Homo sapiens: one gene and its partner. The protein of the gene in region 1 purifies or fractionates together with the protein of each later gene. This does not show direct contact. Each region holds a gene or a part of one and is shown on either strand. Other genes may lie near its edges.

Region 1 (3,747 bases):
GTTGTGGCCTGTGGCTTCAGTCTTCATCACCACAATCCCTGAAGCCCACCCTTGCCCAGACACCTGTGCCCCAGCCCCAACCCCAGGCCACCTCCTCAGCAGGTCTGGGGCTGAGCTGCCCCACCTGGCGCCTATGGCGGCCAGCCCATGCCCCCTGCGGTGCCTCTGTCCCAGACTCAGCATGTAGGCCCCATGACCCCACTCCACATTCTGGTGACTCCTCCTGAGCGTCAGGACAACACTCAACCCACGAGGAATTATTTCTGTCTCAAAGATGCAGGAATCAGCTCAACGCCTCAAAACTCCATCACCACGGTCAATGCCCTTGAAGCCATCGACAGTGATCACCCCAATAACAGAAGGTCTGTGAGCCCAGAAATGCCCTGCTCAGGGTGGTTAGCTTCAAGCCACCACCTTTCCAACCAGCCTGGGCCAGTTCTTCCAGACAGCCGCCTGCGGGCACAACAGGAAAGAGACCTGCGCCCCGGCTCAGACACCTCACACCCAGCTGGCTCTCAGGCCAGACAAACTGGGAAGCCCATCTCTCTTGAAGGAAGTCCAGATGGGAAACAGCTTCTCAACAGACCAGATCACAGCATCAGATCTAAAGGTGGCCTTCAGAATTCTTTTTCAGGTTGAATTAGGATCAAATCTAAGAATTCTAAATTCAAAATGCAGCAGAAAAACAAAACACACACACACACGGAGCCTAAGTTCTGGAGTGACATGTGCTTGGGTTCAAATCCTGGCTCTGTTGCTTCCTACTGTTTGTTGATGGGTGAGTTTCTTCATTTGCCTGAGCCTCAGTTTCCTTGTCTGTAAAATGGGGCAATAATCCCAGCTGCACAGGGTGATGTGAAGAGACAAATTTAAGACACTGCCCCTTAAATGCTAGCCACATACATACAGTTTTCAATGTTTAAACAACAAAATGTAAAGTCTTTTGAAACCAGGAAGGGTGATTTGGTTTCCCATGTTGCTGGATGTATCATTTTCAGAAAGACAGAGAGAAATGAACTTTGTTCACTCAGTCTCAGAGGCGGCCGCCGGCAGCATTCAAAGGCACCCCAGCCCGGAGCCACCCCAGGGAGGAGCCCCAGGCCAGCGGTCAGATTCATGGGCTTCCGTGCAGAAGGGGAGCTGCACCGGCGAGCACCCGGCCTCTGAGCTGAGCCGCATCCTCACGGACAGGACAGCGCCCCATTATGAGGCTCCTGCAGCTGTTCCTCGCTCCAGATAAAGGCCATGATTTATTCTGTGTGCCCAAATGGGGCCTCATTATACAGGGCAGGACACAAGGACCCTACAGCAAGTGTCCTCAAAGAGTCGCCTCTCACTCCGTGAGCAAGACTCCTCGGCCTCCCACCCTCCGTTCACAGGCCCCCTCCGCCGTCTGCGGGCGCAGGCCTGGGAGCGCCGCCTGTTGCCATGACAGCCGGCCCCTCCCTGCCCCCCATCAGTAGGAAATCATCCCCTTCTGAAACGTCCTGTTGTGTCCCTCAGCTCCAGCCCAAGCCCCCCACCCAGCCCCCGCCTGCTCTGAGTCTCTGAGACAGTCACACACTCAGACTATGTGGCCAAGCTGGGGGCGGGGGGCATGGGCTAGGGACACACTAGAATATTCACGCTCCGGTGGCAGCAGCAGCAGCAGCCAGAGGAGCAGCCCGACACAACAAGGGACCCCTCAGGAATGAAGCAGCCTTTCAGGGCCAGAGGGGCTGTGGTCTCCCTTCCTCTCCTTAAATAGCCAGCGTTCCACCCACAGCGGCAAGGAGCCCCCTGCCACCACCGACACCCACGGGCGGAGATCACCTGCTGCCCCGCAGACCCCTGTCCCTTCCTCCCGGACCAGCAGCTAGAGGTAAGGGGCAGGCTGGGTGGGGTGGACTGGGAGCCCAGGGCTAAGCAGAGGAAACACTCAGCGGGGAGCCCTGCCCAGGGAGACAGGCAGCAGCCTGTCTCGTCCCATCTCTTTGGTGATGGTCTGACCTGTGCATCGAAGGCTGACCACAGTCTGAATTCACAGCAGCCCACAAAGCGGTGTTTCGTCCCTCTGATGGGGGCTTGCAGAGGGGAAGTGGCTTGCCGGCAGTCCAGGCTGCAATGACAGCACCGCTGCCCCTAACCATTAGGCAGCCTTGACCCATAGAGGAGCCAGATGCCTGGGAGAGGGCTCGGGCCAGGGATGGAGTGGCGCTAATGCAAAGGAAACTGCCACCACCTGGCCATGGCGCTGCCACCACAGGCCCTCCCCGAGGCCACACATGCCCACCTGCCACCTCCACAGAGGCCTATGACCTGTCCTAGATGCTCGACTCACCCACAGCCACGGGACCCAACACTGCCCAGGCCCCGGCCCATGCCACGCCCTTTCCTCTTACGGACACCGGCTCGGTGGCCGTCTGACCAGTGAGTCGTGAGGAACCAGCGAGTCTAGACTGAAGTTTGTGTTTCTAAAGGGCAACAGAGAGTGAAGCGGGGCCCATCTCAGACCAAACTGCAACAATCAGTATCAGAACTCCTCAAACGGGGGACAGAAAGGGAGAAGAAACCTCAGCAAACCTGAAACCAACCAGAAAGCTGTTTAAAATGGAGTCTCAGTCCCAGAGAGAGCGAGGGGCACGCCCTTCGGCCCGGGCAGGAAGTGGAGGGCAGTGCCCAGGCTGAGGCCCCCGGGCTGGAGGCAGGAGGCACCACAGGCCCACCTGGTGCCATGAGATATGCCACCCCTGCCGTCACTCAGGGCCCTGAGCCCAGTAACACTCTGCCGTCACTGTCCTGAAACTCTTCCTTTTTGAGCAAGGGGCTGCACATTCTCATTTCATACATGGGCCCCTAAAATGAGGGAGTGGCCCCAGGGCCAGGAGGGGGTGCTGAGCCTGGGAGACAACTCCATGGCAAACTCTGAGACTGAGTCACACTCCCCACCCTGGCGGTCTTCCAGGGAGTGAGACCGTTTCCCCGGTCTCACTTCCAGCTCCAGGGCCAATGTCCCCTGGTCAAGTGACCTAAGACAAGTTAGCAGACACTCAGCCTTGACTCCCTAACCTGCAACATGGGGCTAAAACTGGTTTGAGCCAGCACAGGCAGGCCCCCACCATGCCAGGCAGAGTGGTCAGTCGTACCTATGAGCTGCTCTCTCGTGGGGCCAGGTGATGCCTGCACTGTGGGGCACAGCACAGGCCTGAGGGACAGCCTGGGGTGGAGGGCACCCACCTTGGCCCCTTCCCACCCCCAGGTTCTAACAAGGGCCCCTCACTCACTGGGCCCCCTCTCCTCTTCCAGTCTCCAGGGCCTCCCCGCACACACCTTCCTCCTCTCCTGCCAACCTGAAAACAGCACACCTGTGTGCCCCTCCCATCTACCATGGGCTGTCCTCTCTGCTTGCCCATGCGTCTGCCCTGGAGCCCTGTTCCTCCAGTCTCCGGGTCCTCACCCCCAGCACATGCAACACGACACCCTCAAAGTCATGGGCCCCCCTCCCCTGCCACCGTCCCACCGGTACCTGCTCCCTGTTCTCCCCTGCCTCACAGGCCCTGTCAAGGGCTGTGTTCCTCCCTCCTTTTACCTCTCCTCCACAGCCCCCTTCACAGCCCTCAGCCCTTCCCCAGGGCTTCAGCCAAGCCTGTCTCCCTCTCCCAAGCATCACTCACCCCGCCTTCTTCGGCCCTCAGCTCTCCGCCCTCACCGTGGTTTTAGCAGTCCTAGGGAAAGTGCCAGCCGAGACCAGCCAGACCAAGTCAGAGT
Region 2 (3,747 bases), on another chromosome or scaffold:
GCTCAGCCAAGGGGAGGGCCAATGTCAGGACACCTGGGGAAGGCGTGCCTGGATGACCCAGGAGTCAAAGTCACTGAAGGTGACTTTCACAAGCCAAAGCTGGGAAATTAGACTGGGGAGAGCAAGGGCCAGGCTCGGATTCTGGGCTGGATGCAGCTCACCCATGGGAAGAAGTTCTTGCATAAATTTCCTACCACCTGAGCACCTGTGTCTGCGACCTGTGAGTGGACAGAAGAACAAGTCTGAGGTCCCAGAGGTTTCTAGGTTTGGGGGAAGGAGACAGGGAGGATGTCTTTATGACCACAGCTGAGGCTGGGTTCAAGAGGCCTGGCTCCAATCGGTCAGTTCAAGTAGCCGAGGCAGGGCTGCTGGGACTCCTCTGCTGCTGCTCACACGGAGCTCAGCCCAGACCTGCAATTAGAGCTTTGCTTCAGGAGCAGAGCTGAGAAAATGGGGAGAGTTGCTAAGCAACCAAGGGGCTGCAGCCAATGGGCACCAAGGAGGCTGTGGGTTACCTCACTGGCTCCTTGCTCGCTCATTCGTTCAGAGGAGAAGGGGCATCAATTACCTGCCAAAGCCCTTGAGACTGGCTGGGCGGGTAAACTTGGGTGTATCCAAGGACACCTCACATCACCCACACACTTGCCCTGATCTGTTTCCCTTAGTCACCAACTGTCAGAGCCCACCCAGCACTTGAGCTTCAGGCTGCCAAGAGATCTGGGATTAGGTATCCACCTTAAGCTGGAAAGCCTGGGAAGCCAGGGGATAAGTATCATAATAACTCCCAACACAATAATGAAACCAAATACTGGCAACTGCCGTTTACAGAGTATATAGGAACCATGCTAAAAGCTTCACATTCTCTTATTTAATCCTCATACCGAAACAATCTTTTATTTTTTAAAATCAACCCAATATTTTATTTAAAGTTTCAAAAGGCAGTGATTAAGCACATTATCTATGTGTGTGTGTGTATCATATACATATAAATATATGTATGTATACACACACATATATATATAGGAAACCAACTCCTTTTCAAATTTAGCCACTGAACAACTAGGCCCACTTTCTATTGCATGATTCCAGTTCTACTTCTTATGACCAGTACTAAAAGTAAACAGCCTTAATCCATTTAATAGTAACTATGTTTCTCTTTAAAAAAATGAACAGTTGGCCAGGCATGGTGGCTCATACCTGTAATCCCAGCACTTTGGGAGGCGGAGGCAGATGGATCACCTGAGGTTAGGAGTTCAAGACCAGCCTGACCAACATGGCAAAACCCCGTTTCTACTAAAAATACAAAAATTAGCTGGGCGTGGTGATGCACGCCTGTAATCCCAGCTATTCTGGAGGCTGAGGCAAGAGAATCGCTTGAACCCGGGAGGCGGAGGTTGCAGTGAGCCGAGATTGTGCCACTGCACACCAGCCTGGGTGACAGAGTGAGACTCTGTCTCAAAATAAATAAATAAACAATTACCATTAACTGATCACATAAAGTATAAAGGTAGAACATATACACACAGTTCCCATTTTAAAACATGTAACGTATCAATAACCCAAAGGTACAAATGCATGCTACTGACCATCCCAACCCTAGCAGAGACCACAAAAGAACTCCCATTACTCAAGGAGTCAAAATATTCTCTACCGAACACCAGGGGCAGGACTTGTGCACATTATCCTGTTTAAACCTTTTCAACTCTGTGGGGTTGATATGATCATCCCCATTTTATTGATGAGGAAACGGAGCCTTAGGAATGGCTGATCCAAGATTTCAGATCTAATAAGTGAACCATCTGGGATTCAAACTTAGATGTGACTAATGCCAAGGCTTGAGTCATCAGCCACTCTTCCATGAAGTCTCTTTCAATGGTTTTCCCTTCCAATTCTGCCAAAGGTCCCAAAGCCCCATCTCTGAAATGTCAGCATCAGGACCTCCAGTCTCACTTCTTCTAATCCAGCTCATACCAAAAGTCTCAGTAGGCCATTTTCTCTGCTTATAATCCTTTAATATCTTTATATCGTCTTCAGGATGAAGATCAAAATCTTAAACTTGGCCAAGGTCCTGCATGATCTGGGCCCAGGTCTCCTATACCTCTGGCCCTTAAATCTTGCTGTCTAATCACATCTAATGATTTACAGATCACCAGACCCTCTGGGCTTTCACCCTTCCCTTGCTTGGGCTGGAATGTCCTCCCCATCCATCACTTCCATCTGGCTAACTCTTACACAGCTGGGTTGTCACTTCCTCTGCGAATCCTTTCACAGCCCTCAGACTCAGTGAAAGCCTCCTCTGGGTTCTTCAAGGCCCCTGCGTTCTCCATCAGAGGATTCATCATGTTGATTGTACTTGCCACTCATGTGTCCACTAGACTGTGAGCTCCTGAGACTGAAGCTAAAGCATTTGTCTCTGTGCTCCCAGAGCTCAGCACAGGGCCCAAAACAGGACATGCTCAATGAACATTTGCCAAACACTTCACTACACTCACTTCTTTAGGGCCCTTGAATATATCATGATGCTGCCCACAAGTCTTTGCACATGCTGTGGTTCCTAAAGCCTAGAACAATCCACCTTCCTCCCCCAATCCCTTCCAGCCCCACCCCTCCCAACTCAGGCAACTCCTACTTTCCTCCATTCACAAAATATCAAATGCTACCATGTGCCGAGCACAATGCGACAAAGTAAAATGACAGAGTCCCTGTCCTCACAGAGGTGAGAGAAATCATGTTATGGGCTAAGAAGGAAAAATACTGGGAGCTCTGAGGTAATATAAGAGAGAAGATCAAACTTAGCCTTAAGAATCCATGGAGGACTTCCCTATGGAAATGAAGTTTAAGCTGAGGCAAGGTGTCAAGTATATGTAATGAGCCAGAGGCTGAAAGGAACATGGGACATTCAAGGAATTAAAGAAACTGTGTGAGCGTGTAGAGAGCAAGGAGAGTAGCATGAGATGAGGCCAGTGATGCCATACTGTGCAGCACCATTATGAGTCACATTAAGGATTCTGAGCTTTAACCTAAGAGCATTGAGAAGCCACTGAAAGCTTCTGATCAGAAAGATTAGATCCCCATTTTCAAAAGATCACTGTGGCTGCTGGGACAATGAAGGGTACAAGAGTGAGGACAAGCTCTACAGTAATCTGGGGAGAGAGATGATGACAGCTTGGACTAAGGTGGTAGCAATGGAAATGGAAAAAAATAGATTTGCAATATGGTCAGGAGGGGAACAGCCAGGACTTGGTGACTAGTTGAGAGAAGGAAAAGAGAGTCAAATATTTTAATTGAATAACTGATAATTAGTTGTTTAATGTCTGCCTCCCTGTCTGAACCATGAGGACAGGGACCATGTCTTCTTTGGTTCCTTGCTGTATCTCCAGCATAGGACCAGGTATCAGTACACATTCAATTAATGTTTATTGAACAGATGGATGGATGGATGTGTGGCTGGCCAAAGAGGTTGTCTTCTGGGTGAGTGGGTACTAGCTCACCTCTGGGCATCAGGCTGTGAGATGGCATTCACAATGGCCTCCACACTGCTGTCGAAGAGCTCCGAGTCCTGCAGAGCAGCAAAGGCAGCCTGAATGAGCGCCTCACAGTCCTGCAGCGGCACCTCCAGCTGCACCCAGCTGGAGAAACACTTGAGCACCTTCTGACGCACACAGCTGGGTGAGCTGGGCTGCTGTAGCAGCTGCTCCAGCAGCGGGAAGACAGCCCCACATTCCACCGCCAGGCTGGTCCGCACCA

Evidence for each region. Proteins that work in one complex are often made in the same cells at the same time.
Region 2: the proteins of GPR17 (region 1) and IPO13 purify together in Homo sapiens (co-immunoprecipitation; 2 studies listed by BioGRID and IntAct, with this or other methods). This does not show direct contact.

What each region holds. Positions count from the first base shown.
Region 1 is NC_000002.12:127,644,384-127,648,130, forward strand, and holds the start of GPR17 (uracil nucleotide/cysteinyl leukotriene receptor), read left to right. Parts: upstream 1-1,769; 5' UTR 1,770-1,861; intron 1,862-3,263; coding exon of another isoform or gene 3,264-3,361; exon of another isoform or gene 3,362-3,456; intron 3,457-3,653; exon of another isoform or gene 3,654-3,747. UniProt on the Homo sapiens protein: Dual specificity receptor for uracil nucleotides and cysteinyl leukotrienes (CysLTs). Signals through G(i) and inhibition of adenylyl cyclase. May mediate brain damage by nucleotides and CysLTs following ischemia.
Region 2 is NC_000001.11:43,949,898-43,953,644, reverse strand, and holds part of IPO13 (importin-13), read right to left. Parts: coding exon 3,492-3,747; intron 183-3,491; exon of another isoform or gene 162-182; intron 1-161. UniProt on the Homo sapiens protein: Functions in nuclear protein import as nuclear transport receptor. Serves as receptor for nuclear localization signals (NLS) in cargo substrates.